Linked DNA regions of Homo sapiens: regions 2, 3 and 4 are each reported to be linked to region 1. The links are microRNA targets in miRTarBase. Many come from high-throughput screens and were not tested one by one. Region 1 holds a microRNA gene; each other region holds the end of a gene's coding sequence.
What was found. Region 1 holds the annotated microRNA hsa-miR-3157-5p (UUCAGCCAGGCUAGUGCAGUCU, at 2,642-2,663, shown strand). A microRNA usually pairs through its seed, bases 2 to 8, with sites in the 3' UTR of a target mRNA and lowers its output. Matches are read on the target gene's strand: a 7mer-m8 pairs with bases 2 to 8, a 7mer-A1 pairs with bases 2 to 7 and ends in A, and an 8mer does both.

Region 2: the mRNA of CAP1 is a reported target of hsa-miR-3157-5p. Seed matches in the 3' UTR shown: 7mer-A1 at 6,008-6,014.
Region 3: miRTarBase lists DIP2A as a target of hsa-miR-3157-5p. The part of its 3' UTR that is shown has no 7-base or 8-base seed match.
Region 4: miRTarBase lists MTG2 as a target of hsa-miR-3157-5p. Seed matches in the 3' UTR shown: 7mer-A1 at 2,012-2,018.

The regions. Positions count from the first base shown.
Region 1 is chr10:96,059,912-96,067,031 of GRCh38, reverse strand. It overlaps MIR3157 (microRNA 3157), which reads left to right and starts at 2,633; the gene lies at 2,633-2,717. It overlaps CCNJ (cyclin J), which reads right to left. Exons shown (of 6, transcript NM_001134375.2): 6 at 6,162-7,120. All of the region lies in intron 2 of ENTPD1-AS1 (ENTPD1 antisense RNA 1), which reads left to right.
Region 2 is chr1:40,070,583-40,077,702 of GRCh38, reverse strand. It overlaps CAP1 (cyclase associated actin cytoskeleton regulatory protein 1), which reads right to left. Exons shown (of 13, transcript NM_006367.4): 12 at 6,724-6,867; 13 at 5,055-6,253. The coding sequence ends at 6,170. PPT1 (palmitoyl-protein thioesterase 1) reads left to right here. Exons shown (of 9, transcript NM_000310.4): 8 at 790-861; 9 at 3,520-4,991. The coding sequence ends at 3,642. Among named protein-coding and RNA genes, the nearest start is that of PPT1, 23 kb to the left of the region's middle. RefSeq lists an enhancer at 6,665-7,120.
Region 3 is chr21:46,566,902-46,574,021 of GRCh38, reverse strand. DIP2A (disco interacting protein 2 homolog A) reads right to left here. Exons shown (of 38, transcript NM_015151.4): 38 at 4,007-6,652. The coding sequence ends at 6,400. Among named protein-coding and RNA genes, the nearest start is that of S100B, 35 kb to the left of the region's middle.
Region 4 is chr20:62,200,639-62,207,758 of GRCh38, forward strand. MTG2 (mitochondrial ribosome associated GTPase 2) reads left to right here. Exons shown (of 7, transcript NM_015666.4): 7 at 45-2,930. The coding sequence ends at 439. Among named protein-coding and RNA genes, the nearest start is that of HRH3, 16 kb to the right of the region's middle.

The DNA.
Region 1 (7,120 bases):
CAATTGACATCTTTATAAAGTTTACACTTTCTATAAAAGTATATGGTATGCCTTGTGCAACTTTCTTTTGTGTCATAAGTATTTTAGAGTTTTCTTTATGTAGATCTTGTGCATGTGTTGTATTTATTGCCATTTTGTCTTATTTTGGTGGCCATTATAATTGAGTATATCTTGCATTAAATCTAATTGGTTGTTGTTTGTATATATGAGAGCTATTTTAATTGTGTAGCCAGCCAATTTACTAAATTTCCTTATCACGTGTGATAGTTTTTCAGTTGATTACCTTGCATTTCCAGGTATACATTGATTCTGCAAATAGTTGTAATTTTACCTCCTCCTTCCCAATGTTTAAACTGTATTTTATTTTCTCTTGTTTAGTTGTATTGCATGTATAGGTAGGTATTAGTTTTTTTCTTTTTCCCTTTTATAATTCATTTTTACTGCTTTTGTCTTATTTCTTTCCTCCTGCTTTTGTTTGGTTTCTTGTTCTTAGACTTTTTCAGTTGGATGTTAATTTTATTCTGAGCATTGCTTTAGTTTTATCCCAGAGCTCATGATACGTAGAATTTTTGTTACAAGTGATTTTCTAGATAATTTGAAATTTCAGTTTCGATTTCTTATTTGACCTAAAGATTATTTGAGTTCTTTGGTCCTATTACATATTTCTTTTTAGTCACATTTTCATCAGAATATGTCTTCTGTAGTAATTCTACTTTTTGGAATTGTTGCAGTTTTTTGGTGGATTAATACATAGTCAAGTTTTGTAAAACCTCACATTAGAGTTTGATATTATCCAAGAAAACTTACAGAAATATAGTCAGTTATTAGTATACTGTTGTGTAAAGTGAAATCCAGTAATGGATTGACCTCATCTAACAAAGGCAAAAGTGGAAGTGTTTTTGCAGTTTGGAAACCATGAATTTTATTTTCTCTAGATAAGCTGCAGATTAGCTGGTAGCTAGCAAAGAGGCCAGTAAGGATATTCTGATCTCAGGCACCTAGATGGGTCAACAAAGAAAGCAATTTCAGTTATCTAAGGACTCTTTAGAAGACAGAATTTTGCTGTTGGCATGCGTGACAGGCTATCTCTGTACATCTGGCGGTGTACTTTGTTTTCTCTGCCGTCTTTGTTATTCCAGGTCTGCACCATTTCCTTCTCAGAATATCTAATATGTGTCCATTAGATGAACCATAATGGTGTGTTAGGGTTTTGTATATCCTTGCTTTTTTTTTTTTTAATGTTACTGATCTGTCATGGACTTAGAGAAATAAATTAGTTTCTTACCTACCATCTTTTTTTTTTTTTTTGAGACGGAGTCTTGCTCTGTCACCCAGGCTGGAGTGCAGTGGCGCCATCTCGGCTCACTGCAAGCTCCGCCTCCTGGAGCTTTCTCCTGCTTCAGCCTCTGGAGTAGCTGGGACTACAGGCGCCCGCCACCACACCCGGCTAACTTTTTGTATTTTTGGTAGAGACGGAGTTTCACCGTGTTAGCCAGGATGGTCTCGATCTCCTGACCTCGTGATTCGCCCGCCTCGGCCTCCCAAAGTGCTGGGATTACAGGCGTGAGCCACTGCACCCTGCCCCATGTTTTTCTTTTATTTCTCTGTAAAACCTTTATAGTTTGTGCATAATATTGCTACAGTTATTTGATCCAGAAGTATTAATAACTTCATCCTTATCATGAACTGTAACCTTTAGCATTATAAAGTGCCCTTTTTAAAATTTGGTTTAATACATTTTGGCCAAAATTCAGCCTTGTCTGTTATTAAGATCTTGATCCTTGCTTTTTGTTTGAGTTTTTCTGGTATCTCTACTTTTTCGTTGATCTTCAACCTTTCTTAATCATTTTATTTTAGACCTGTCTCTCATACAACATAGATTTGAGTTTCACTTTGTGATTCAGTCTGAAGTTCTTTTTCCCTTAATAGTTGAGTTTGTTTTCATTTATTGATTTGATATGTTTGGACTTAGTTCTGTCAGATTATTTTGTTATACTTTTGCTATTTATACCTTTAAAGTATAGTTTACTATATGGAAAGTTTGCTTTGTTTTATTCCTTCTTTTCATAATTAGAAAGCTTTGTGTTTTTGTTCCTGTAGTTAACTTTGTAATACAGATTGTATAATCAGTATTTCTGTTTTCTATTTAGCCAGTATCTCAGTATCTGTAATTCACTTTTATAAGTAATAACAGAATTAGTATATTTCCTTTCCTTTATTCTATCCCTCAATTCTATCAATTTTGTTTTCTTTCTTAGGGTTTACCTTTGTACCATTAAATATCCATGTACCATTCTTACTCAATTTGTCATTATTGCAGAAAGCTTTCTGACTCCCATCTTCTCTTACTAACCTACCCTGATACTGTCAGATCATTCTTCCTAAAACCACCATTTTCTAAAATCATTATTCTTTCTAAAACCAATCTTCCTAAAATCATCATTCTTCCTAAAATCACCAGTATCATATCACAAATCCTCAGCGATATCTCTGACCCCACAAAGTCTGTATTCTCTTCTGGCTTTCAAAACTCCGTAACTCAACCTCATTCTACTCACTCAACTTTATTTCCTCTACAACTTCTCAATGAGTCTGCCCTCACTGTCCAACAATTGAGCTGAGAATATAAGAAGGGAAGGGCTTCAGCCAGGCTAGTGCAGTCTGCTTTGTGCCAACACTGGGGTGATGACTGCCCTAGTCTAGCTGAAGCTTTTCCCTTCTTTCTACACCCAGCTCAAGTCCCAGGTCCATAAAACCTTTAGAAACTCTTCAGAAACTCTTTAGAGCTTCAGAAGCTCTTGAGAATTGGAAGATGTTTACACCCAAGTTCAAGGATTACTTCCATCCCATTTCTGGTCTATGTCAGGGGCCTCTGTTAACTAGGAACTCAGGAACTCTCAAAGCAGCACTACTCTGTTTGTAACATTCTGGCTTATTATTCATTGAAATGTGAGAAACTTTGGACCACTGACTTAATTCTGCCCTTTGCAGTAATAGGACTTCTCACATCTGGGAAGACAAGCATTTTACCTTTCCTTAGGCTTCCCCAGGTGAAAACACCACCAGTTCCTTCAGTTGTTACTCATATAACATGATTCCTGGACCCATCACCAGCTTGTGGCAAAACTTGGGTTTATCACCATTCCACTTAAAATTCAGTTCACAAGATTTTTGTAGATACGATCTAACCAGTGCTGAATCTGATGGGACTGTGCCTTCCTATGATCAGAGTACTCTACTTTTTAAATCAACCCAAGGCAGCATTTGTTTATTAGTCACTGCCTACTTTTACACTGCATTTTTGTTGTTGTTGTTTTGAGACAGGGTCTCACTTTGTCACCCAGGCTGGAGTATAGTGGCACAAACATGGCTCACTGCAGCCTCGACCTCCTGGGCTCAAGCAGTCCTCCTGCTTCAGCCCCACAAGTAGCTGAGACTACAGGCACACACCACCACGCCCAGCTAGTTTTTTTATTTTTTGTAGAGATGGGGTTTTGCCATGTTGGCCAGGCTGGTCTTGAACTCCTGAGCTCAAGTGATCCACCCACCTTGGCCTCCAGAAGTGCTGGCATTACTGGTGTGAGCCACCGTGCTGGCCAATTTTTTGTTACCTACATCCCAAGAGCCTATGATGTGCTATCATACATCAGATCCCTATCACACACAGGGGCGTAAGATGAGTAAGACAAAATCCCTGCTCTCAAGAAACATATGTTCATTCTATGAAATACCTAACCACGGATTTTCAGAACTGTCGAGGTCATCACAGACAAAGTCTGAGTAACTGTCACAACCCAGAGTTGCCTAAGACCTGAGTGCTAAAGGTAATGTGATATCCTGCATAGGAATCTGGGAGAGAAAAAGGATATTAGGGAAAAACTAAGGAAATTTGAATAAAGCATGGATTTCTGTTAGTAATAGTACATCAGTACTGGTGCATTGTGACAAATGTACCATCTCAATATATTAATAAGAAGAGAGACTGGCTGTGGGCTATATGGGGACTCTGTGTACTATCTTAGTAATAATTCTGTACATCTAAGCTGTTCTAAAATTAAAAATCTTAAGAAAAAAAAAGGACAGCCTGGGTAACATGGCAAACCCCCACCTCTACAAAAAATTGTAAAAATGAGCCAGGCATGTGGTGGTGTATGCCTACGATCCTAGCTACTCAGGAGGCTGAAGTGGGAGAATTTTTTGAGCCCAGGAGGTCGAGGCTGCAGTGGGCCATAATGGCAACACTGCGCTCCAGCCTGGCAGACAGAGGGAAGATATGTTTGACATAGTTTAGATATTTGTCCCCACCCAAATCCATGTTGAAATGTAATCCCCAATGTTGGAGGTGGGGCCTAGTGGGAGGTGTTTGTCATGGGGGCGGATCCCTCATGGCTTGGTGCTGTCCTTGTGATAGTGAGTTCACTTCATGTGAGATCTGGTTAAAGTGTGTGGCACCTTCGCCTACCCCCACTTGTTCCCACCAAGTGAGATTCCTGCTCCTGCTTACCCTTCTGCCATGTTTCTTGAGGCCTCCCAGAAGCCAAGCAGATGCCAGCTCCATGCTCCCTGTACAGCCTACAGAAGCATGAGCCAGTTAAACCTCTCTTCTTTATAAATTACCCAGTCCTGAGTATTTCTTTATAGCAATGCGAGAACGGCCTAACACAAGGTTCTAGTAGGGAGAAACTAGCAAGTAAATGGATACAAGACAGTCACTCTTACATTTTTAATTACAGGTCCCTTTGAGTAGACAAAACTTTAAGAATAGGGGAAATCATTTACATATAAATTGCATACCATGTCAAGGCTTCATGGACTTAAGAACTAATAAATTCAGGGTGGTGATGCTTACCTGGGAGGCAGAGGGTGTTATGGGAGGAAACAGAGTGGTAGTCAGGCAAGGATAGGATAGCAGGTGTCCTTCCCATATGATCCCTGAGCCTGGTCCTTATGCTGTCAACTGACTGTACTTGCTACTTTAAAATCTAAGGGATTGAAAAATGAATGTTGAGTGATTCCTAAACTAACACGATATTAAACCGAGTTCCAGACTACACCAGCCTAATTTTATTTAGTGGCAGACTCTAGCTCTGTTGCCCAGGCTGGAGTGCAGTGGTGTGATCTCAGCTTATTGCAGTCTCCACCTCCTGAGTTCAAGTGATTCCTGTGCCTCAGTCTCCCAAGTAGCTGGGACTACAGGTACGTGCCACCACACCCAGCTAGTTTTTGTACTTTTAGTAGAGACAGGGTTTCACCATGTTGCCCAGGCTGGCTTCAAACTCCTGGCCTCAAGTGATCCACTGGCCTCAGCCACCCAAAATGCTGGGATTACAGGCATGAGCCACCGTGCGGGCCTCTACTAGCCTAATTGCTGCAAGTGTGCTAGTCGTATTTATCAAACTAGATGTAAGCTGCTTGAGGCTAGGGAGGCTTTTACCACGTGCCTGAGAGGCAGTTGTTGGTTATAAACTTGCCACATGGGGCTCAGATCACCTCAAGGCAAAGCTACCTGGCCTGGTTTGGAATGCTTTTTCTTTTTCTTAAAGTCAGCCCTAAAGAACATGGTATATTAACTCTTGAGGGCTGCTAAACCCTGGCACTGTGCCAGAACAAGTGACAATACGATAGTTTTGAGACTAATTTCAAAAATGTTTTTTAAAAAGGCAGTGTAAATTCCTAACCCGCTTGTACAAACCTGTTAAATTTTACTTTTCAAAACAAATTCCATCTGCTAAGGTTTGAGTTGAATTAAGTAGCAAATGATATTTATACTCAGGTAAATAGACCATTCTCACTCACTGTAGACCCTATATTCCTTCTCATAGCTTTAACCATTTTCTGTGTCCCTACTTTTGACATCAAACTTCAGATTTTCTGATGCTTGCATGATTGTTGAATAAATTAGAATCTGTAGTTGCTAACATACTAACAACTGATTTTAAGCTCAAAAAGGCAACAGTGGTGTCCAATATACTTTTGTGGGCTTTAATGCTCAGTATGGAATACGCAATGAACGGATGTTTTATGCCACTAATGGCTATATTCTACATCTTGATGGCTTTTAGTAAATAAAATCATGATTCCAAGTCTGAATTACATGATGAGATGGTTCACTAGAGCTGCAAATATACAAGTTTGTATTTAAAACAAAAATACCGAAGCCATTTTACTGAAAACTAGTTTTATTTTAAAATTAAGTGCATAGCACTCATCTAATTCCATTGGTGTAGACTTTAGCACCATACTTGCTATTTGCAATTAATGTCGTAACACAGATACATTTTGGTTTGCAGTCTGTACTTGAGTAGTGTTTATTTAGTGGACTTTGGTAAAGCCCTTCATACATATTAATCTCTTCACAGTACACATTTAATGATGGTCCAGTATTCTCAAAAAAAAAAAAAAAAGCCTACTTTAAAGACTAATCAATAAATTAAACAAAACAAAACCCACACAATGTTCCCCCACCCCCCAAAGCTAGCAGTTGTGAGTTGTATTTATATTGAAACCTAATGTTTTAAAAATAGTTCTGGTTCTCCAACCACCCCATCCCACCCCGGGTATGCAGCAATAGTAATCAATTATTTTATTCTACCCTCCCAAAAGATTATTAATCCAGTGTTCTTTAGCTTTTTAAAATATAAATTGGGAAAGTGTTATTAATAAGCTTTTTTAAAAGGCATATTCTTCTATAACAAGAATGGCATATAAACCAATCAATAAAAGTATTTGACAAGACATTAAGTTACCACAGGCACTGGCTGTTGTTTCAAGTTGGGATCTCTATCCCAATATCTTACATTCATAGCATTATTGAGGTAGTTAAAATACTGAAAATTGGACTCCAGGTTGCTGGGTTCTGAATGTGAATGTGAAAGATATATTCTCTTTTGAGCCTACTTTCCCCCAAATAATTCAAGTTTTCTTGAGGTAAGAACTACCAAAATCCAATTAGCAGCCTTCTTTAAAAAGGAAAAGTGATGATACTTTCAGAAAACAATTTTCATGCTTAAAAACTGCCATGAGTGAGTGTTCTTACCTGAGTGGTTTTTCATTTTATCTACCAGACTAATAAATCCACATCATGCCCTATGTACTCTAAATATAAAAGTTATTTTCTTTT
Region 2 (7,120 bases), not on the chromosome of region 1:
GAATGTGATCGCTTTTTTAGAATCATCAGCCTCTGTTAAAACACTCATCACGTTATGTCACACCACCAGGGATTGGCCGATTGTGGCCCACAGGCCCAGTCCATCCTGCTACCCGTTTTGGTGCTACCCACGAGTAACACCAAACACTAACATAAAAGAATGTTTTTAACATTTTTTAATGGTTGGGGGAAAGAATTGGACATATAAAGATTATGTAAAATTTATTTAGACATATCAAGTATTTGGACATATAAAGATTATGTAAAATTTAAATTTCAGTGTCCTTATTGGAACAGTTTTAGTTACTTTTTACATACTGTCTGTGGCTGCATTTGTTACAGTGGCAGCAATGAGTAGTTACAACCATATGGCCCTTAAAGCCTAAAATATTTTGTATCTGGCCTTTACAAAAACGTTTGCTGACCTCTGTACTCAACAGTGAATTGTTTCCGTGCCTTGCAAGACTGGGAGCTTTTTGGAAACAGATTATGTATTCATCCTTGAATGTCTAGAGCTCAGCACAGGAATTTTTCACATTTATTGCTTAATAATTTTAGGAAGCAGAAATTCTGGGGAAGTGGAAAGCGGCCTCTCAGAAAGATTAACTCATCCCTCGGGCTCCACCCTTAAGAAGAGATGACTCAGACGCACCCTATCCATTTTTCCTTCTTCCTACAGCTTTATGATGTTCACTTTGTTGGCAGTTTTAGCTTCTAACCAGTCTCAAATTATTTTGGCAGTATGTGCTGTGTGTCATATCTGAGCTTCTTTCCTTTGCTTCTTCTGCAGTGGTTTGGATTTTACAGAAGTGGCCAAGCCAAGGAAACCATTCCCTTACAGGAGACCTCCCTGTACACACAGGTAACTGGCAGGGAGTCTATCTTGGGAGGTTGGTGTTTTTTCAGCTCCCAGTTCCTGAAGCTGCTATGTTCTTTGGTGCTGGAGCCCTTTCCTTTACACCTCAGAGCACTAGGTACTCCTGAAACACCTGACTCATGTCCAATATGGGTGAAGCTTGTTAGGCTCTTGATTATGTGCTCTAGCTTATTAGGCACTGGGTTACAAAAATCCACTACATCCTGAAACCTTATGGTTTCCAAACAACAAGAGAAACCTCATGTCTGATTCCCTTCTTTTGATAAAAAGGTTTTAAAACTAGCTGCCTTGGCTGAGGTACAGTCTGCTACAAATCCAGGAAGCCTCCATGCATGATGAGGGGCATTCCTTTTTTTTTCTTTGAGACGGGGTCTCGCTCTGTCACCCAGGCTGGAGTGCAGTGGAGCAATCTTGGCTCACTGCAACCCCTGCCTCCCAGATTCAAGCAATTCTCCTGCCTCAGCCCCCTTAGTAGCTGGGATTACAGGTGTGTGCCATCACACCTGGCTAATTTTTGTATTTTTAGGAGAGATGGAGTTTCACCATGTTGGCCAGGCTGGTCTTGAACTCCTGACCTCAGGTGATCCACCCACCTCAGCCTCCCAAAGTGCTGGGATTACAGGCGTGAGCCAGTGCGCCTGGCCAAGGGACATTACTTTTAAACATTAATAGATGTGAAATCCTGTTTCTAAATTACGCACTGACAAGGGAGGCTCCTGCAGGAGGTTGAGTGGGACTAGAGTTTTGAATTTTGTTTAGCAGTAGGTCCTGTATCTTAAGCAGAAGTTGCAGTAATTTGCCACCTCCAGTTCTGGGGCCTTCTACACTTTAAGGATTTTTTTTTTTTTTTTTTTTTTTTTTTTTTTTTGAGACAGTCTTGCTTTGTCACCCAGGCTGGAGTGCAATGGTGTGATCTCAGCTCACTGCAGCCTCCACCTCCTGGGTTCAAGCGATTATCCTGCCTCAGCCTCACTAGTAGCTGGGATTACAGGCACACGCCACCATGCCTAATACTTTGTTTTGTTAGTAGAGACGGGGTTTCACCATGTTGGCCAGGCTGGTCTTCAACTCCTGACCTCAGGTGATCCACCTGCCTCAGCCTTCAAGAGTGCTGGGATTACAGGTGTGAGCCACCACGCCCAGCCCTAAGGATTTTATATTGGAGACAGACTCTCCAAAATGCTAAGTACTACATCTGAACCAATCACCGTCTACTAGAATTCCTCCATGTTATTTCAGAGGTCATTTGTCTCCTCTTGGCTTGGCTTTTCTTTTGCACTGGGTGCCTCAACTTGGGTGGTGAGGTAAAAAGGGAAGCTAGAATCTGATTTGAGAAAAAAAAAAAAAAAGGCTTGAGAAATTACAGCTAAGAACTTCCTTACTGTGAAAACTCAAAATGATGTTGGCCACGGCAGAAGCACCATTCTGGCACTGTCGTAACTGCTTATCTTCCCAACCAGAGGTTGTTCTCCAGCATCTAGGCTATGGGTAATGACATTTTCAACTCCAGAATATGAAAGTGTCCAGGGTTTGTTACCTAACGGTTGGATATGGTTTTTCTGTTTTGTTCTTTTGAGACAGTTTTGCTCATTGCCCAGGCTGGAGTGCAATGGCATGATCTCAGCTCACTGCAACCTCCGCCTCCCGGGTTCAAGCGAATTCTCCTGTCTCAGCCTCCCAAGTAGCTAGGATTACAGGTGCCCGCCACCATGCCCAGCTAATTTTTGTATTTTTAGTAGAGACAAAGTGTCATCATATTGGTCAGGCTGGTCTTGAACTCCTGACCACAGGTGATCCGCCTGCCTTGGCCATCCAAAGTGCTGGGATTATAGGCGTGAGCCACCGCGCCTGTCCTGGGTTGGATGTTTTTTAAGTTACCTAGCTAATGTTCTGTCTTTGGCTCAGTCCCACTTACCTATGGCATTCTGAGGCAGTGTCGTCTATGGCTTGCCCACCTATAGGTAGTCCTCTGACTCTGAGCTTTTCAAAAATCAGAATCTAGAACACTGTATAGAGCAATCTCAATTGCATATCTATTTTTAATACTTAGAAAAAACTGGCCGGGTGTGGTGGCTCACGCCTGTAATCCCAGCACTTTGGGAGGCCGAGGCACGTGGATCACCTGAGGTCAGGAGATCAAGACCATCCTAGCTAACACAGTGAAACCCCATCTCTACTAAAAATACAAGAAATTACCCAGGCATGGTGGCATGCGCCTGTAATTCCAGCTACTCATGAGGCAGAGGCAGGAGAATCGCTTGAGCCAGAGAAGTGGAGGTTGCAGTGAGCCGAGATCGCACCACTGCACTCCAGCCTAAGCAACCGAGCAAGACTCCGTCTTGAAAGAAAGAAAGAGAAAGAGAGACAGAGAGAGAGAGAGGAAGAAGAAGAAGAAGCGGGGGGGACAGGAGGAGGGGGAGGAGAGAAGAAAGAAAAGAAAGGAAGAAAGAGAAAGAAAGAAAAAGAAAAAAGAGAAAGAAAAAGAAGTAGGAGATATTCTTTTTGGCATTTTTGAAAATACACCTCAATTTTAATACTCAGGACAAACTGCATTTTGAAAATATATCTCAAGTTAACGTACTTACCATTTTACTCCAAAACTTCATTAAGCTTTTTAATTAATTATGGCCTTTCCTTCTGCAGGACCGCCTGGGGCTAAAGGAAATGGACAATGCAGGACAGCTAGTGTTTCTGGCTACAGAAGGGGACCATCTTCAGTTGTCTGAAGAATGGTTTTATGCCCACATCATACCATTCCTTGGATGAAACCCGTATAGTTCACAATAGAGCTCAGGGAGCCCCTAACTCTTCCAAACCACATGGGAGACAGTTTCCTTCATGCCCAAGCCTGAGCTCAGATCCAGCTTGCAACTAATCCTTCTATCATCTAACATGCCCTACTTGGAAAGATCTAAGATCTGAATCTTATCCTTTGCCATCTTCTGTTACCATATGGTGTTGAATGCAAGTTTAATTACCATGGAGATTGTTTTACAAACTTTTGATGTGGTCAAGTTCAGTTTTAGAAAAGGGAGTCTGTTCCAGATCAGTGCCAGAACTGTGCCCAGGCCCAAAGGAGACAACTAACTAAAGTAGTGAGATAGATTCTAAGGGCAAACATTTTTCCAAGTCTTGCCATATTTCAAGCAAAGAGGTGCCCAGGCCTGAGGTACTCACATAAATGCTTTGTTTTGCTGGTGATTTAACCAGTGCTTGGAAAAATCTTGCTTGGCTATTTCTGCATCATTTCTTAAGGCTGCCTTCCTCTCTCAGTACGTTGCCCTCTGTGCTATCATCTTATCATCAATTATTAGACAAATCCCACTGGCCTACAGTCTTGCTTCTGCAGCACCCACTTTGTCTCCTCAGGTAGTGATGAATTAGTTGCTGTCACAAAAGGAGGGAAGTAGCACCCAAATTAAGTTGCTTAAGAGAGGAAATGTACATCTTGTATAACTTAGGGAGCGAAGAAAATGTAGGCGCGAAAGTGAAAAGTGAGGCAGCTAGTTCTTCCTATTCCATTCTCGACCAACCTGCCCTTTCTTAATATGACTAGTGGTCTTGATGCTAGAGTCAACTTACTCTGTTGCTGGCTTTAGCAGAGAATAGGAGGAACCATATGAAAAAGATCAGGCTTTCTGACTTCCATCCCCAAAACACATTTACCAGCATACTCCAAACTGTTTCTGATGTGTTCCATGAGAAAAGGATTGTTTGCTCAAAAAGCTTGGAAAATACTACACACTCCCTTTCTCCTTCTGGAGATCAACCCACATTAGAGTGTCTAAGGACTCCTGAGAATTCCTGTTACAGTAAACAAAACTAACGTAATCTACCATTTCCTACACTATTTGAGCATGGAAATCATAGTCCCCACTCTGTGAAAACTTAACGCTTTTTGGAAGACATTTCTGTAGCATGTCAGTTTGGAGAAATGATGAGCTACGCCTTGATGAAAGAACCGTGTTGGTGCTGCTAAGTTTAGCCATTATGGTTTTTCCTTTCTCTCTCTTAAGCCTTATTCTTCAACTAAAAGATGAGGATTAAGAGCAAGAAGTTGGGGGGGATGTGAAAATAATTTTATGAGGTTGTCTAAAATAAAGAGTAGTTTCTTATCCTTGGTGTTTTCAGTATTTTTTGCATTTCTGTACAGCCAATATCACAGGTAAACAACTAAGCAAGTTTGGTATTAACTTTATTCTATTTTCTGTATAACTTTAAGTACATAAAGGTTTATTTCCACAGGCCTCAGGAAATGGGTAGAAATCACAGGACAATCTCTCTTCCCACCAAAAAAAAGTTGCATATTTTGGTAAGTGTTTGTCCTAGAGGGAAAAACAACTGAAATTTACATTAGCAGTGCTGTGCAAGATTCTTACATAATTCAAGACCTAAAACCAGCCTGCAGTGGAGGTTTCAGTCCTCTGTTCAGGTGCTTAGACAGAAGCCATAAGCTGATGAGCATGACAGGGAAAAGGAGGCAGTGAAGACAGGTGACAGGCACCTGGCAGGGAAGAAGGATTCAGGAATGCCAGACTCCTTGAAATCATGTGGGTTTTTTTTTTTTTTTTTTTCCTTTTAAAGTCATCTCTATAGGAAGGTGCTGGGCAGGGATCCCAGAGAAAGAAAGGGTCCAAGACTCCATTAACTGCCCTGGATGAAGGGCACTGCTACAGCAGCTAGTACCAGAGACTCTCCTATCTCACGGTTGAGGCAGACCCAGGATAGAATAGAGAATAAAAGGAATGCTTATAGGAAACAATTTTGTATGGAATGCTAGATGGCCAAGCCTCAGCCTTTGGTCCAGTGCAACCCTTGCCTCGCTTGTCAACAGTGAAAAATTAGTTTGGTTAGAAGAACCATCTGGAAACACACCAGCTTCTGCTACCTTCATGCTCATTGTTAAAAAAAGATTAACCAGTGTGAACATTCTGATCTGTTAATTCCAGGGACTGTTTTCTTTCCAATGGACTGTTTGTTGGTAGAATAACCCCCAAAAGCTCAAAGCTAAAATGCATCATCAGTCCTAGTCGGCAGTTCCTTAAGAATGGACTGGCGGCGTGGTTGAGCTGATATGGAAAAGCTGCACCTTCCTGCAGAAGATCAACTGACCTGCTATCCCACCCCAAATTTCAGCCTGAGGTATATTTCAGTGAAGGCAGGTAGCTGTGCTTCTCAGAGCAGAGAAGCAGTTTTAAGAGCAAAAAGGTAGAGGAAATCTAGAAAAGAACCGTCTTGATACAGATTTATCCCATGGTGTGAAGGGAGGGCAAAGAACCCAGTGGCACTTCGCTTATCCAGCAATTTCTGTCACTGTGGTGACCAACTTCTGCCCGTTCCATAGGGTCTTGAACTGCTCAGGAACTGGGAATTCATTCTGCAAATAAAGAAGAGACAGCAGGTTTAAATCTGAGCTAAAGAACAGCTGGGGCTAAATCTCACACATTTCTCCCAATGCTTGCTTCCACTTAACCCCAGGAGCACGGTACAATGTAGCAAGAGACAAACCCACAGAGCCATGCTATGTTCTAGTGTTCAGCGATCTTGGACAGACTATTAAGTCTATGGGGTGTAAATAACAGTACATATGGCTTTATAGCACCAGCCTGACAAGGTGCCATGGCTCATCCCCATTATTTTTTGCTACCTTGAGCTCCACTTAGGCAGAAAGCACCTACCTTTGGGGCTCCACTACATGGGACTACCTCATTTCTGTGTACTTTTGGTGTGCATTATTGGGTTTTTACCTGCTCAGTGCAGAATGTTCATAAAATAGCTTTCTTCAATGCCAGAAATCTTCAGTCCCTTCTGTTTTTAACATCATACTAAAGAGATCAAGAAACTTACAAAGTCACCGCCTTCTGTAGGAATGAGGACATTCATCTCGGAAGATTTGGCACTGACTATTTCACAATCCAGGGAATTCTTGCTCAGGTAAGCATGGCAGCCATCTGTTTTGTTGATGGATATGGTTGGCACTTTACCCATTACCTGCAGAGTAAACAAAGAGAACTGAGTCCCAGTGGTTGGGAAGGACAACAGTAAGTCGCAGGAAAAGGTTTCCTGTTTCACGTGACTCAGCAACTACATGAAAAGCTCACAGATGCGCAAGACACTGGATACTCGGGTGGGTTGGGATGGGTCCTGAAAAGAACTTGCTTGAAGAGCCAACCCTTCTTCTGCCACGTCCAAAGCAGCTCAGCTTACAGACTTTGTAGAATCAGATTCCCACCAAAGCAACATC
Region 3 (7,120 bases), not on the chromosome of region 1:
CTGCATATGTCTGTTAGATCTAGTTAGTTTGTTGTGCTGTTTAAAGCCTCCATTTCCTTACTTATGTCTTATTGTTCCATCCATTATTCAAAGCAGGGCACTGACATTTCCAACTATTATTATAGAACTGTCTATTTCTCCTTTCTCCCTTCTATTGTCAGTTTTCATTTCATATATTTTGATGATCTGTCATTGTATGTGTAAATGTTTACAATTGTTACATCTTGCTGAATTGAATCTTTTATTAATGTCCATCATTTCTTGTAATCATTTTTTATTTAAACTATATTATTATAGCTACCTCTGCTCCCTGTTGATTACTATTTGCATGGAATATCTTTTTTTTTTTTTTTTTTTTTTTTTTTTTTTTTTTTTTGTGAGAGAGGGTCTTACTCTGTCTCCCAGGCTGGAGTACAGTGTTGTGATCTTGGTGCACTGCAATCTCCACCCATCAGGCTCAAGGAATATTCCCACCTCAGCCTCCTGAGAAAGCCACAATGCCCAGCTAATTTTTGTATTTTTTTGGTAGAGATGTGGTCTCTTCATGTTGCCTAGGCTGGTCTCAAATTCCTGGGCTCAAGAAAACCACCTGCCTCAGCCTCCCAAAGCGCTGGGATTACAGACATGAGCCACTGTGCCCAGTGAATATATTTTTCCATCCTGTCACTCTCAATATATTAATACTGTGTCTTTGGATGTGAGTCTCTTGTAGACAGCATACAGTTAGATCCTGTTTTTTCCCCATTCTGCCAATCTCTGTCCATTTAATCTATTTACAGATAAAGTAATTATCAATAAGGAGAGACTTACTTCTGTCACTTCATATTCTATATGCCTTATATCTCTTTCATTTCTTGTATTGCGCCCTTCTGTGTTTTTTTTTAATGAAACATTTAAATCCCTTTCTCACTTCCTTTTGTGCATACAGCCATGCATTACTTAACAACAGAAATATGTTCTGAGAAATGTGTTTTTAGGTGATTTCATCATTGGGGGAACAACATACAGTGTATATGTATCTACACAAACCTAGCCTACAACACACCTAGGCTATATGATATAGCCTATTGCTCCTGGGTTACAAACCTGTCCACCATGTAACTGTACAAAATACTGTAGGCAATTGTAATGCACTGGTATTTGTATATCTAAACACATGTCCAAATTTAGAAAAGGTAGTAAAAATACAGTATAAAGGATTAAAATCAGTACACTTGTACAGGGCACTCAGTCCATTGTATGTTGCTTATAACAGAACACCTGAAATTGGCTACATTATAAGAAAAACATGAATTTATTTCTTAGAATTATAGCAGCTGAGAAGTCCAAGGTTGAGGGCCACATCAGGTCAGGGTCTTCTTGCTGGTAGGGACTCTCTGCAGACTCCCAAGGTAGTGCAGGGCATCATATGGTGGGGGCGCTGAGCATGCTAGCTCAGGTCTTCATCTTCTTACAAAGCCATCAGCCCCATTCCCATGATAATCCATTAATCTATCAATCCTTGAATAGATTAATCCAATCACCTCTTAAGGGCCCCACCTCTTAATACTGCCACATTGGGGGTCACTCAAATCATAGTAAGTACTTACCATTAATGGAGCTGGTAGAACTCAAAGTTATTTTGGGTGTAAGTGGTGAATGAATGTGAAGGCCTAGGACATTACTGTACACTACTATAGACTTTATAAACATTGTACACTTAGACTACACTAAACATAATTTTTCTTCAATAATAAATTAACCTTAGCTTACTGTAACTTTATAAACTTTCAAATGTTTTTAAGTTTTTGGCTATTTTGTAAAAACATTTAGCTTAAAACACATTGTACAACTGTGCAAAACATTTTTAGACATCTTTATAAACTTTTTTCTCTAAAAATTTTTTATTTTTTACATTATAAACTTTATTATTAAAAGCTAAAACCTGTCAATAAACTAGGTATTGGTGGACCATATCTCAAAATAATAAGAGCTATTTATGACAAACCCACAGCCAGTATCATACTGAATGGGCAAAAACTAGGAAGGATTCCCTTTGAAAACCGGCACAAGACAAGGATGCTCTTTCTCACCACTCCTACTCAACATAGTATTGGAAGTTCTGGTCAGGGCAAACAGGCAAGAGAAAGAAAGAAAGCATATTCAAATAGGAAAAGAGGAAGTCAAATTGTCTCTGTTTGCAGATGACATGATTGTATATTTAGAAAACCCCATCATCTCAGCCCAAAATCTCCTTACTCTGATAAGCAACTTCGGCAAAGTTTCAGGATACAAAATCAATGTGCAAAAATCACAAGCATTCTTATACACCAATAACAGACAAACAGAGAGCCAAATGATGAGTGAACTCCCATTCACAATTGCTACTAAGATAATGAAATACCTAGGAATACAACTTACAAGGGATGTGAAGGACCTCTTCAAGGAGAACTACAAACCACTGCACAAGGGAATAGGAGAGGATGCAAACAAATGGAAAAACATCCCATGTTCATGGATAGGAAGAACCAATATCGTGAAAATGGCCATACTGCCCAAAATAATTTATAAATTCAATGCTATCCCCATCAAGCTACCATTGACTTTCTTCACAGAATTAGAAAAAACTACTTTAAATTTCAATATATTGGCCCACTACCTTCTGGCCTCTAGTTTCTGATGAGCAATCTGCTGATAATCTTATTGAGCAGCAGTCCCCAACCTTTTTGGCACCAGCGACTGGTTTTGTGGAAGACAATTATTCCACAGACCAGGGGGCACAGGACGATGGTTTTGGAATGGAACTGTCCCACCTCAGATCATCAGGCATTAGATTCTTATAAGGAGTGTGCAACCTCGATCCCTGGCACGTGCAGTTAGTTCATAAGAAGGCTTGCATGCCTATGAAAATCTAATGTCACCACTGATCTGACAGGAGGCAGAGCTCAGGTGGTAATGCTCACTCACCCACCACTCACCTCTTGCTGTGTGGTCTGGTACCTAACAGACTGTTAACAGTCTGTGGCCCAGGGCTTGGGGACCTGTTACTGAGGATCCTTTGTATGTAGCAAGTTGCTTCTCCCTTGTTGCTTTCAAAATTCTCTGGCTTTGGCTTCTGAAATGTTGGTATCTGTGTGGTCTCTTTGAGTTCATCTTACTTGGAATTTGTTGAGCTACTTGGATGCTTATATTCAGGTCTTTCATCAAATTTAGGAAGTCTTCAGCCATTATTTCTTCAAGTATTCTCTCTCTCCCTCAACCCCACTTCTGGAACTGCCAACATGAAGGCCAGCACTGTGGCAGGAACCAGGCAAATACTGGAGGTTAGTTATTTCTCTGCCATGTACTCCCCATTGGTTTATGCTGATCATTCCAGTAGAACCACTTTGAAATAAATCAGCTATATTCATAATCTGAAATCAAACACAATAACCAGTTTGCATAAATATAACATCTAAAAAACCATCTGCACCAAAACAGATAGAACCAAAATACAAATAACCCACAAGAAAAAGTAAGAAGTATATGGAGGTTATAATTCTTAATAGAAAGAGACTCCTACATGTCAGTAAGAAAAAACTTGACCATAAGGACTGCCAAATCTGAACAAAATACATCAGATAAGAACTAAAAATGGCCATGAACACGAGGACATATTCAACATGACCAGACACAACACTTATTTGCCTATCAAATTGTTAAAGAGTTATTTTAATCTTGAGCACATGTCCATTGCCAACATTACTTGGCATCTGCAAAGAGGCCTTTTCCATGCTGTCATCCTGCCCTTCTGGAGGGCAGCAGGTACCCAAAGCTTCACACCTGGCATGAACTCTGACCCACTCACTCTACCTATAAGAACTGAGCCCAAGGCAGTAATTGTAATCATGGCAGTGTAAACGTGCATCTGGGCTCACTGCAGTCCTGTTGAAACAACGCTGATGTACGGCAATACAGCAAATACTACATTTACTCATGGCACACTTGTAAAATACAGCCACTGAAACATGTAGAAGAATATATGTAATAGATTTTAAAGTCTATAATTTATTAAGTACAAAAGCAAATTATTTAAAAAAGCACTTGATCCTAATTTTGTAAAAAATTTTTAAAAAGAAAAAATAAATCCCTGAGAGGGTTTATGTTACATACGAATGCTGCTGTTTACTCAGAGGTAGAATTATAAGAAATTTTAATTTTCTTTATACTTTAATGTGCTTTCTAGATTTTATGCTATAAGCATAACTGCTTTTATAGTCAGAAAAAAAGCAAAATAAGATACAACCTATTCGGGGTAATTTAAAGACCCTTTTCACACATTTCAAAATGCAGAATTACAAAGTCAATAACTTTTATTAACATAATGATATAAAAATTTTAGTGTGATATACAGAATTCCCAGAGTAATTCTAAAACATTTTAATGCACTTCTTAAAATCTTAATTTACAAGACACCTTGTCTTACCACCACTGACCTTTCAATACAAAAAGCTGACAATTTTTGTTTGCTATAAAACTACAACATTAAGATTGGAGTTAGGTAGTTTTTTTTTTTTTTTCTTTCCCTTCCCAGCCATTCTATTGTAAGGAATGTCCATTAGACTACTTCCCAAACCTCTGTATGTCAACAATAAGTTACATAGATTCTGTACATACTTACAACAGGATTATTAGAATTCCAGTATGTCACAACATACTTTACCACAGTCCAACACCATGGGGAAACAGGGCTACTATGCACAGTGCTATTTGTAGCCAGACAGGAGTAAAACATGAGAGCTGGCCCAGTTAGCCAGACTCATGTGTGGAGAATTAATAACAGCTTTGTTAGGCACTGATCCAGACTAATTCTGGAAAAACCTGGTTGTTTCTGTGAAGCATGCATGATTCACAAAATTTGCCACCCTCAATACCCCAAAAACCCAACAATTTCGTAACATACTCTTCATTAGCTATATAAAAATAATCTATGTCTTAGATTCGTGCTTGACTTCAAATTCTTAGAAGTAACTAAAGGACTTTACATTCTCTTCTTTGATTTAGGTTCTGTATAATTTTAGATCACTCAGCTTAGTCAAGTTTGAACAAAATAATAAAATGGTTTGGCCAAATTTTATAGGCACACAACTCAAAATGCAAAAAGCAGTGAAGAATGTAACCATCTCCACCTTCAATACGGGGCAATGCTGTTCCCTGCTCCCCTCAACTGTACTGCCGGTACTCACCAAACAGCACTATGGATATGAAAACCTTAGACTTTACCACAATGCTTCCAAATCTGCTGACTTGGAATAAAAATAATAAATCAGTACACTTCCACGAGAAGAATTAATATTGTAGTGTTAGGAAAACTAGCAATTTAACTAAACAGCATCAAGTTACAAACCAGGAAAGTGATTTAAAACTAAATGCTGGCTTATCTTTCTGAAACAAAGCATCTAAATTTGACAGTCCAAAATGGCACTTATTGAGTGTCCGTGACAATACATGCTGACAAGCAGCACACCTCTTTTTTGTTTTTTTAAGACGGCATCTCGTGCTGTCACCCAGGCTGGAGTGCAGTAGCGTGATCTCGGCTCACTGCAAGCTCCGCCTCCCTGGTTCATACCATTCTCCTGCCTCAGCCTCCCAAGTAGCTGGGACTACAGGCGCCCACCACCACACCCGGCTAATTTTTTGTATTTTTAGTAGAGACAGGGTTTCACCATGTTAGCCAGGATGGTCTCGGTCTCCTGACCTCGTGATCTGCTCGCCTCGGCCTCCCAAAGTGCTGGGATTACAGGTGTAAGCCACCGTGGCCAGCCAGCACACCTCTTTCAATAAAGGAACTGGCAGAGGAGGCACTGTGTGTGACCACAGTGCCCTCTGTGAGCAGGGAGGATGGGTCCAGCTTGCTTCCTTTTTCCATCAGCCTCCCTGTGAAACAGAAGTGAGGCAGCTGGTTTGTACTCTGCTATCTTCCCAGAATCAAGTTTCTCCCCGTAAATGGTCTCAAGTTTCTCCCGTAAATTCTATATATGAACTTGTCATTTGAAGTGGGAATAAATAACTGAATTTTAAAAATCAGGAACTATATTTTTAGCCTAAAGAAAGTGCAAACTTGCAGTACAGCAGAGAACAACCTCGGTGCCTGTGATTCCTCACAATGCCCATGCCAGGCCTTTCCTTTCCTTTCCTTGTCTCTCCATCTGTTAAAATACCAGCATCCGTGTTTTTGTAAATGTACTTGGCAGATTCAAAATATTTCTTTAAATAATTCAGGAAGTGCTTTCTAAAAGGAGATGCGGGGATTGTTGAGAGGGATCTGTAAGAGCACAGGAAGGGCGAGTCCCGGTGAGTGAGCTCTGCGGTGTCTTCCCACATCACACCTTGGACTGCTGGGGCTCATTCATCTCCGGCACCTGGGCCGGTGTGCTGCGCTCACATGTTGTAGGCGACATAGATGGGGTCCAGCTGGTCAGCCAGGAAGCCGTCCCGCAGGTGCATGCGCTGCTTCTCACCCCGAGAGTTGATAGGGATCACCCCTGGGTCCACGATGACCACCACTCCCACGACCAGGTAGTGCTCCTCCAGCACCACGTTGGTCACCAGGGCCACCAGGTCCAGGGCATCCTGCTCTAGCCCATCCAGCTCCACCACCACCACCAGCAGGTTGGTCCAGGTGAATACGGCACTGCAGAGAGAAGACAGACTGGGTCACATGGATACAGGCACAGGTCACAGGGGCCAATGAATGCTTGGGAAAGGGTGGCACAAAGAAGAGTGAAGCCCACCAATGTCACACAGCTATTTAAGGCCATTTACAATCTAAAGATCAGGCCAGATCCATTTTACAGGATGTCTATTCCAACTAAAGCTTTTACTGAGAATCAGAGCATTATCTGATGCTGAAAGCTGTACCTGTCCCAACACAAGTTCCCTACAGGTGAAGGAATCAGGAGTCACAACCATGTGAGAAACTCATATTAAAAGTAGAAACACTTCAGGATGAGACCTGTGGAAATCTACATTTTGCCTGTGCATTTGGGGACAATCTCTTAGCTTACCACTGATAAGGAAACAGATAAAAAAACAAGCCAAACCCAAACACAGGCAGTGAGGTGTGCTCTGGCACCATGTTTTGCAGAGTACATCCAGAGGG
Region 4 (7,120 bases), not on the chromosome of region 1:
GGTGTGCCAAGTGGTCACCTCGTGTGCCCCTGTCTTCCCTGCAGTGGCCGACATCCCCGGCATCATACGAGGCGCCCACCAGAACAGGGGTCTGGGGTCCGCCTTCCTCAGGCACATCGAGCGCTGCCGCTTTCTCTTGTTCGTGGTGGATCTTTCTCAGCCTGAGCCGTGGACTCAAGTTGACGATTTAAAATATGAACTGGAGATGTATGAAAAGGGCCTGTCTGCGAGGCCCCACGCAATCGTCGCAAACAAGATTGACCTCCCTGAAGCCCAAGCCAATCTGTCCCAGCTCCGGGATCACTTGGGACAGGAGGTCATCGTGCTGTCGGCGTTGACCGGCGAGAACCTGGAGCAGCTGCTGTTGCACCTGAAGGTGCTGTATGACGCCTACGCGGAGGCCGAGCTGGGCCAGGGCCGCCAGCCGCTCAGGTGGTAGCCACGCCAGAGCGGGGTCGCCTCTGGGCCTCTGTCTGAGCAAACCTGGGTGTGAATTCGGTGGTTTTGAATGCATAAAGTGCCTTGTGGACACGGGGGAGTTGTGGTGCTTCTGGGTCTCTGGGCCCCGCCTGCTGGCCTGAGATGCCCTCATGTTGGGAAGCATTCCGTGCCCCCTACCCCGCCTGCCCTCCGTATTTCCTGCACCTGTCAGCCTGCACCGACTGATGAGCCAGTTGCTCATTTGTGCTGATTAACACCCCTAATAAGGGGTTGGGGTGCCCATAACGGGGTGGCCCTGCCGCTGACTCAGGTCTCCGCCATGCACGCGTGGACTCTCGGATGAGCTCAGCAGAACCGCACAGCCAGAGCCCCAGGTCAGAAGTGCAGACCAGGGTTCTCAGCACAGTGCCCGTCGTGCTTCCATGGCTTGCTACGGAGAGAGACCTCTGGATCCACACTGGGGCTGCGTCTGGCCCGTTGTCCAGCAGCCCTGCGGTACCGCAAGCCCAGGCACCAGTGTCTCGGGGGGCCTCACTGCTGCGCAAGGGGTGGGGCCGAGGATGCAAGTCCAGGCAGAGCGGCGCAGGCAGCTGTGAGCTTTTCTCCATCAGCCGTCTGAGAAGAGCAGTGAGGCCAGCTGCTTCCTGTCCTTCAGAACACTTCTCTGTGCTCAGTGGGAGCCAGGAAGCCTCAGGCTTCACGACTGAATGCACCCAATATCCGACCTGGCTGCGTGTTTCTGGCTGGGCTGCCGTGTGCACAGCAAGTTAACTAGAGGGGCTGTGGGCCATGGAACTGTCAGCGTTATTCTCAGAAGGCGGCCGTGGCATGGGCAGGGTATAGTGAGGAGTGGAAGGAGACGTGTGCCTGGTAATATGGGGCGGAATTTCCACTCAGCTCCATTTGCTGGGGATTTAAAGAGAACCCTTGTGCTACGCCAGGCAGTTACCGAGCCGAAGGGAGATGATGGGCCTTCGCCCCTCAGTGGGATGGCAGCTGAGGGGGCCCTGCATTTGACCGTCGAGACTGCAGCAGCGCCTTTCCTGTCTGTGGTTTAAGTCTTTGCAGTCAAGTACTGATGCATCCAAGCCAGGCCCATGCCTGGTGTCTCCCTGACTGCAGAGGAGCCCCAGGGCAAGGACAGCTCAGCTGCTGGCAGCCTGCCTGGCCCATAGACATCCCCCAAGTAGTCTCAGGCCTCTGACATGTCCCTGAGGGGCCCCTAAGAAAGAAAGTGGAGGGGACACTCCAGAGGCTGTCGTGGGAGGATCATGTGAGCCTGGGAGGTCAAGGCTGCAGTGAGCCGTGATTGCACCACTGCACTCCAGCCTGAGTGACAGAGCGAGACCCTGTCTCAAAAAACAAACAAACAAACAAACAAAAACAGAACATTCTGGGCACGGTGGCTCATGCCTGTAGTCCCAGCACTTTGGGAGGCCGAGGCTGGTGGATCACAAGGTCAGGAGATTGAGACCATCCTGGCTAACACAGTGAAACCCCGTCTCTACTAAAAATACAAAAAAATTAGCCAGGCGTGGTGGCGGTCACCTGTAGTCCCAGCTACTCGGGAGGCTGAAGCAGGAGAATGGCGTGAACCTGGGAGGCGGAGCTTGCAGTGAGCCGAGATCACACCACTGCACTCCAGCCTGAGCGACAGAGCAAGACTCCATCTCAAAAAAAAAAAAAAAGTGGAGGGGACAAAGAAGCAGAGAAGGATGATCAGAAGGGGACCCCCAGCCCTTGGAGGAGAGACGGCAGCCTCAGGTGAGATGAGCCGCAAGGGTCCGGGGCCGCGTCTCTGCACGCTGGGGTGGGGCGCGCTTTGCACAGCAGGCCGGTGCCTGGGCTTTCAGGAGCAATTCCGTTTTGATCTCACATCAAATCTGCAGCTAGAACATGACAGTCCTTTTACCCGAAGCTTTATTTTAATGTCTTATAATTTCAAAGGTCCTTCTATCCTAGAAACCAGAGATGGGTTTTGCATCTATTTGCTTTTTCTTTCAGGCCGCCACAAAGGATTTTGTGGAGTCGCCCCAGGCCTGACGGCGTTAATTATCCCTGGCTTTCATCTTGATGCTCTTGCAGGGGAGGCTCAAGATGCCTTGTGGCTCGACCCCTGCACGGAGCCCCCAGCCCAGCCTCCCCGTGGGTTGAAACCTTGATCTGGGCCTGACTGTGGCTGCTCTGGGGACATGCCCTCGTCCTTTGCTGAAGCTGAGGCTCCAGAGGGGGAGTCACTGCCACGAAGGTTGCCCAGAACTTTCCTTGCTGCAAAAAGCCCCAAGACTTCTCCCTGCCACACACACAGCTTTTGCCATCGCGTTCTAAAAGCTGACAGCTTTCTCTCCAACACTGTTCTCCCTGAGTAGGGTAAAGCTACACTTGGCTTCCCCAGTTTCCTGTTTCCTGCCTAGAAACAAATTTTTGTCAGTCTGCTTTTCAAATGGGATATATGATTCACATACCATAAAATTCACCACTTTATATAATTCAGTGGTTTTTTTGTATGTTCAGAAGGTTGTGCAACTGTCAAACTGCAAATTCCAGAACGTTTTCATCACCCCGAAAACAGACCCTGTGCCCGTTAGCGTGAACCCGCCTTCCCCCTCCCCCGGGCACCCACCCGTCTACCTTCTGTCCCCAGGGACCTGCCTTCCAGACAGATCCTGTAATTGGAGTGTACACTATGTGGCCGTCTGTGCGGGTCTTTAGTAGCCATGCCTGAGGCGGCCGACACCGCAGTCTTTAGTTACGGAAGGGACCGCGGGTGCAGGCCAACCCCCCCACAGTCAGCATGTGTGGGCTGCCTTGGACACAGGGTCTCTGTGTATCCCCAGCAGCCTCAGAACACCTGACCCAGAGACGGCGTCAGTAAGCGCTGGCAGGTGCACGGAGGATGGCGCTGGCATGAGGAGCCTTCAGGCTGCTCCTAGTTTTAAACTATTTTTACTTTTGTTTTTATTTTTTTAAGACAGAGTCTCACTCTTTCGCCCAGGCTAGAGTGCAGTGGTGCGATCTCGGCTCACTGCAACCTCTGCCTCCTGGGTTCAAGCGATTCTCCTGCCTTAGCCTCCCAAGTAGCTGGGATTACAGCCTGCACCACCACGCCTGGCTGATTTTTGTATTTTTAGTAGAGACAAGGTTTCACCATGTTGGCCAGGCTGGTCTCGAACCCCTGACCTCAGGTGATCTGCCCACTTTGGCCTCCCAAAGTGCCGGGATTACCGGCATGAGCCACTGCGCCTGGCCTGAAACTCAGTGTGTGTGTGTGTGTGTGTGTGTGTGTGTGTGTGTGTGTGTGTGTGTGTGTGTGAGAGAGAGAGAGAGAGAGAGAGAGAGAGAGAGAGAGATGGAGTCTCACTCTGTCACCCAGGCTGGAGTGCAGTGGCGCGATCTCCACTCACTGCAACCTCCGACTCCTGGGTTCAAGCAGTTCTCCTGCCGCAGCCCAGGTGGGGTGGAGTCTGGGTGCCCTGGGGCCCTGCCACCTTCCACTTGGACACGGGCGAGGAGGGGTTTGCCCTGAGCATCCCCTGTAGAAGCCCAGCTCCACAGCAGCGCTGTAGGAAAACGTAGTGTGTCCATTTGAAAATGAAGTTTTATCTATTCCTTATTAGTCTCCTGGGGCTGCTATGACAAAGTGCCACAAACCGGGTGACTTAACAGAAGTTGGCCGAGCATGGGGGCTTACACCTGTCATCTAGCGCTGTGGGAGGCCGAGGCGGCCGGATCACCTGGGGTCAGGAGTTTAGGACCAGCCTGGCCAACATGGTGAAACCCCATCTCTACTAAAAAATATGTAAAAATTAGCTAGGGGTGGTGGCCCATACCTGTAGTCCCAGCTACCCAGGAGGCTGAGGCAGGAGAATCGCTTGAACCCCTGATCACTTGAGCCAAGATTGCGCCACTGCACTCCATCCTGGGCGACACAGTGAGACTCTGTCTCAAGAAAAAAAAAAAAAAAAAACAAAAAAAACCTAAGTGGATTCTCTTGTTTGTCGGGGGTGAGGCCTCTCAAGGCCAGGGAGGTCCTTCCTGCTCCATCCTCGGCTAGCAGTGGCAAAGGCTCCCGTCCCTGCCCTGTCTTCATGTAACTTCCCCCTGTGTGTCTGTCCTCTTATCTTCTGGAAGCCAGTTGTGGGATTTGGGCCTCTCTAAACCCAGGATGGTCCCATCTTGAGATCTTTAGTTACATTTGCACAGACCCCATTTCCAATAGTGATATTCTGAGGTTCTGTGGATGTGGATTTGGGGGCACGTTGTTTGACCCCAAGCAATGTCCCTTTCCATCTTTTTTTTTGGCGGCGGTGGGGGTGGTGCAGAGTCTTGCTCTGTCATGCAGGCTGGAGTGCAGTGGCGCGATTTTGGCTCACTGCAACCTCCACCTCCCAGGTTCAAGCGATTCTCCTGCCTCAGCCTTCTGAATAGCTAGGATTACAGAAATGTACCACCATGCCCAGCTAATTTTCGTATTTTTAGTAGAGCCAGGGTTTCACCATGTTGGCCAGGCTGGTCCCGAGCTCCTGAGCTCAGGCGATTTGCCCGCCTCAGCCTCCCACAGTGCTGGGACTGCAGGTGTGAGCCTCCACTCCCAGCCTCCCTTCCCATCTTGTGGTCGTGTGTGCTTCCCGGCGCACGTGCTATACTGAGTTCAGTCTCGCGTGGGGCCTTTGCCTCCTCACCTCGCCAGCACAGCAGCTCTGCCCTCGGGTCCACCCCAGGTCCCGCCATGCCTGTCACCTCCACCCCGCTCTGGACGATGGCAGTGGCCTGCTAATGTCTCCCCTACTTGGTGCCCGGGCCCCTCAGTCTTCCCCTGTGGCTGTGCCAGGAAGCCAGGCCCCTCACTGGGAGTCCCTGGTGCCCACAGCACCAGCCCCACTGCCCCTTCCTATGTCTGAGCCATGCTGAGGCCACTCCTTGGACTGCAGGCTTTGGTGTTGCTGATCCCTGTGACCCAGTGCCCTGCCCAGACACCCCGTGAAATGCCCTCTAGTCAAAAAGCCAAAGACAGCCACACGCGCCCAGGCTCTGCACAGTTGGGCCCACCACCCTCTCGTGCACGCACTTTCCACACTTCACGTTAGCCGCCGTCGCCCCCCCGCCCTAAGCTCCTGGAGAACAGAGACCTCGTTTGTCTGTATGCAGTGCCCGGGTCGGCGCTGGCCCCGGGATGGAGGCCTGAAGGGCAGACATGCTGAGGCAACCGGAGCGTCTCATCAGTGAACACACGTGCCGGGGACCTGTCCTGGTGCCGCTAAAGAGGCTGCAGAGCCGCGGGGTGCGGCAGTGCTTGGCGGGGGCGGGGTGCAGCTCTGCGTGCATGGCGTCCACCTGGGGACCGCAGGTGTCAAGCCGGGGAGAGCCAGTGCCAGGAGGTCACACACGATGGTTCCCTCTACAGAGTGTTCCAGAAACGATGAGGAGAATGGATTGGCGGTCCTCGGGCTGAGGAGGGCGGGAGGGTGGAGGTAGCCGTGGACACAAAAGGGCCATGCCAGGGTCCTCAGACCATCACCCTGTGTGTTGGCGGTGGGGCCACGAGTCTGCACGTGCGAAAGAATCCTGTTGGCTTAGTGTTTCAGGCTGGGAAGATGACCGGCTCTGAAGGTGGAGGGTGGTGATGGGAGAGCCACTGAACCGCACACTTCAGATAGCTCAAGTGGTGAACTTTATGTTTATCACCACGATAAAAAATATGACATAGGCCGGGCGCGGTGGCTCACGCCTGTAATCCCAGCACTTTGGGAGGCCGAGGTGGGCGGATCATGAGGTCAGGAGATCGAGACCATCCTGGCTAACACAGTGAAACCCCGTCTCTACTAAAAATACAAAAAAATTAGCTGGGTGTGGTGGCAGGCACCTGTGGTCCCAGCTATGCAGGAGGCTGAGTTTGCAGTGAGCCGAGATCGTGCCACTGCACTCCAGCCTGGGCGACAGAGCAAGACTCTGGCTCAAAAAAAAAAAAAATTTATATATATATATATATATATATATATATGACATAAAACTAAACATGCCACACACACACGAGTGCAGGGGAGTGGGAACCTGCGTGCGGCGATGGCGTGTGTCCTGCGTGCGGCGATGGCGTGTGTTGTGGTCTTAGAGGGTGGCTCACCCAAGCTTCCCTGTGGGGGAAGCCGATAAAGGGCACGTGGGGTCTCTGTAGTGTTGCACCCAACAGCATGGAATCTACAACAATCTCGAAAGAGGAAAAGTCAAGGCGTCGGGAGCCCACTGCCCTCTGGCGAGCTCCTGGAGGCTCCATGGAATGTTCGGGCTGCAACCACCCCAGCCCTCCTGGGACTGTCCCCTCCTGGTGCTCTTGCTCAATCTCTGCTAGAAGAAGACAGCGTGAGGTCAGCTGAAAACAAAAGCAAACTTTTCTGCAGGCTGCACACCCGTTGGTGTTAGAATTTTGCAGGAAACATCCCTCCTGGGCTTTGCCGCTGCCGAGGATCCTGGATCTGGGGACATCTCTAGCAGCACCGCCAGGAAGAGGCCGTACAGAGGACGCACGGCAGGCCCAACCCTGCCTGCTGTTCGAATAATTCATATTCTTACTGCCAGGACTGGCTCCACCAACAGCCCTACCCCCAGGCCAGGGTCTCCACTTCTGAAAGGAGCCAGACAGTCAGAGAGGACCCTAGGCTCCTCCATGTGACATGGGGTTAGC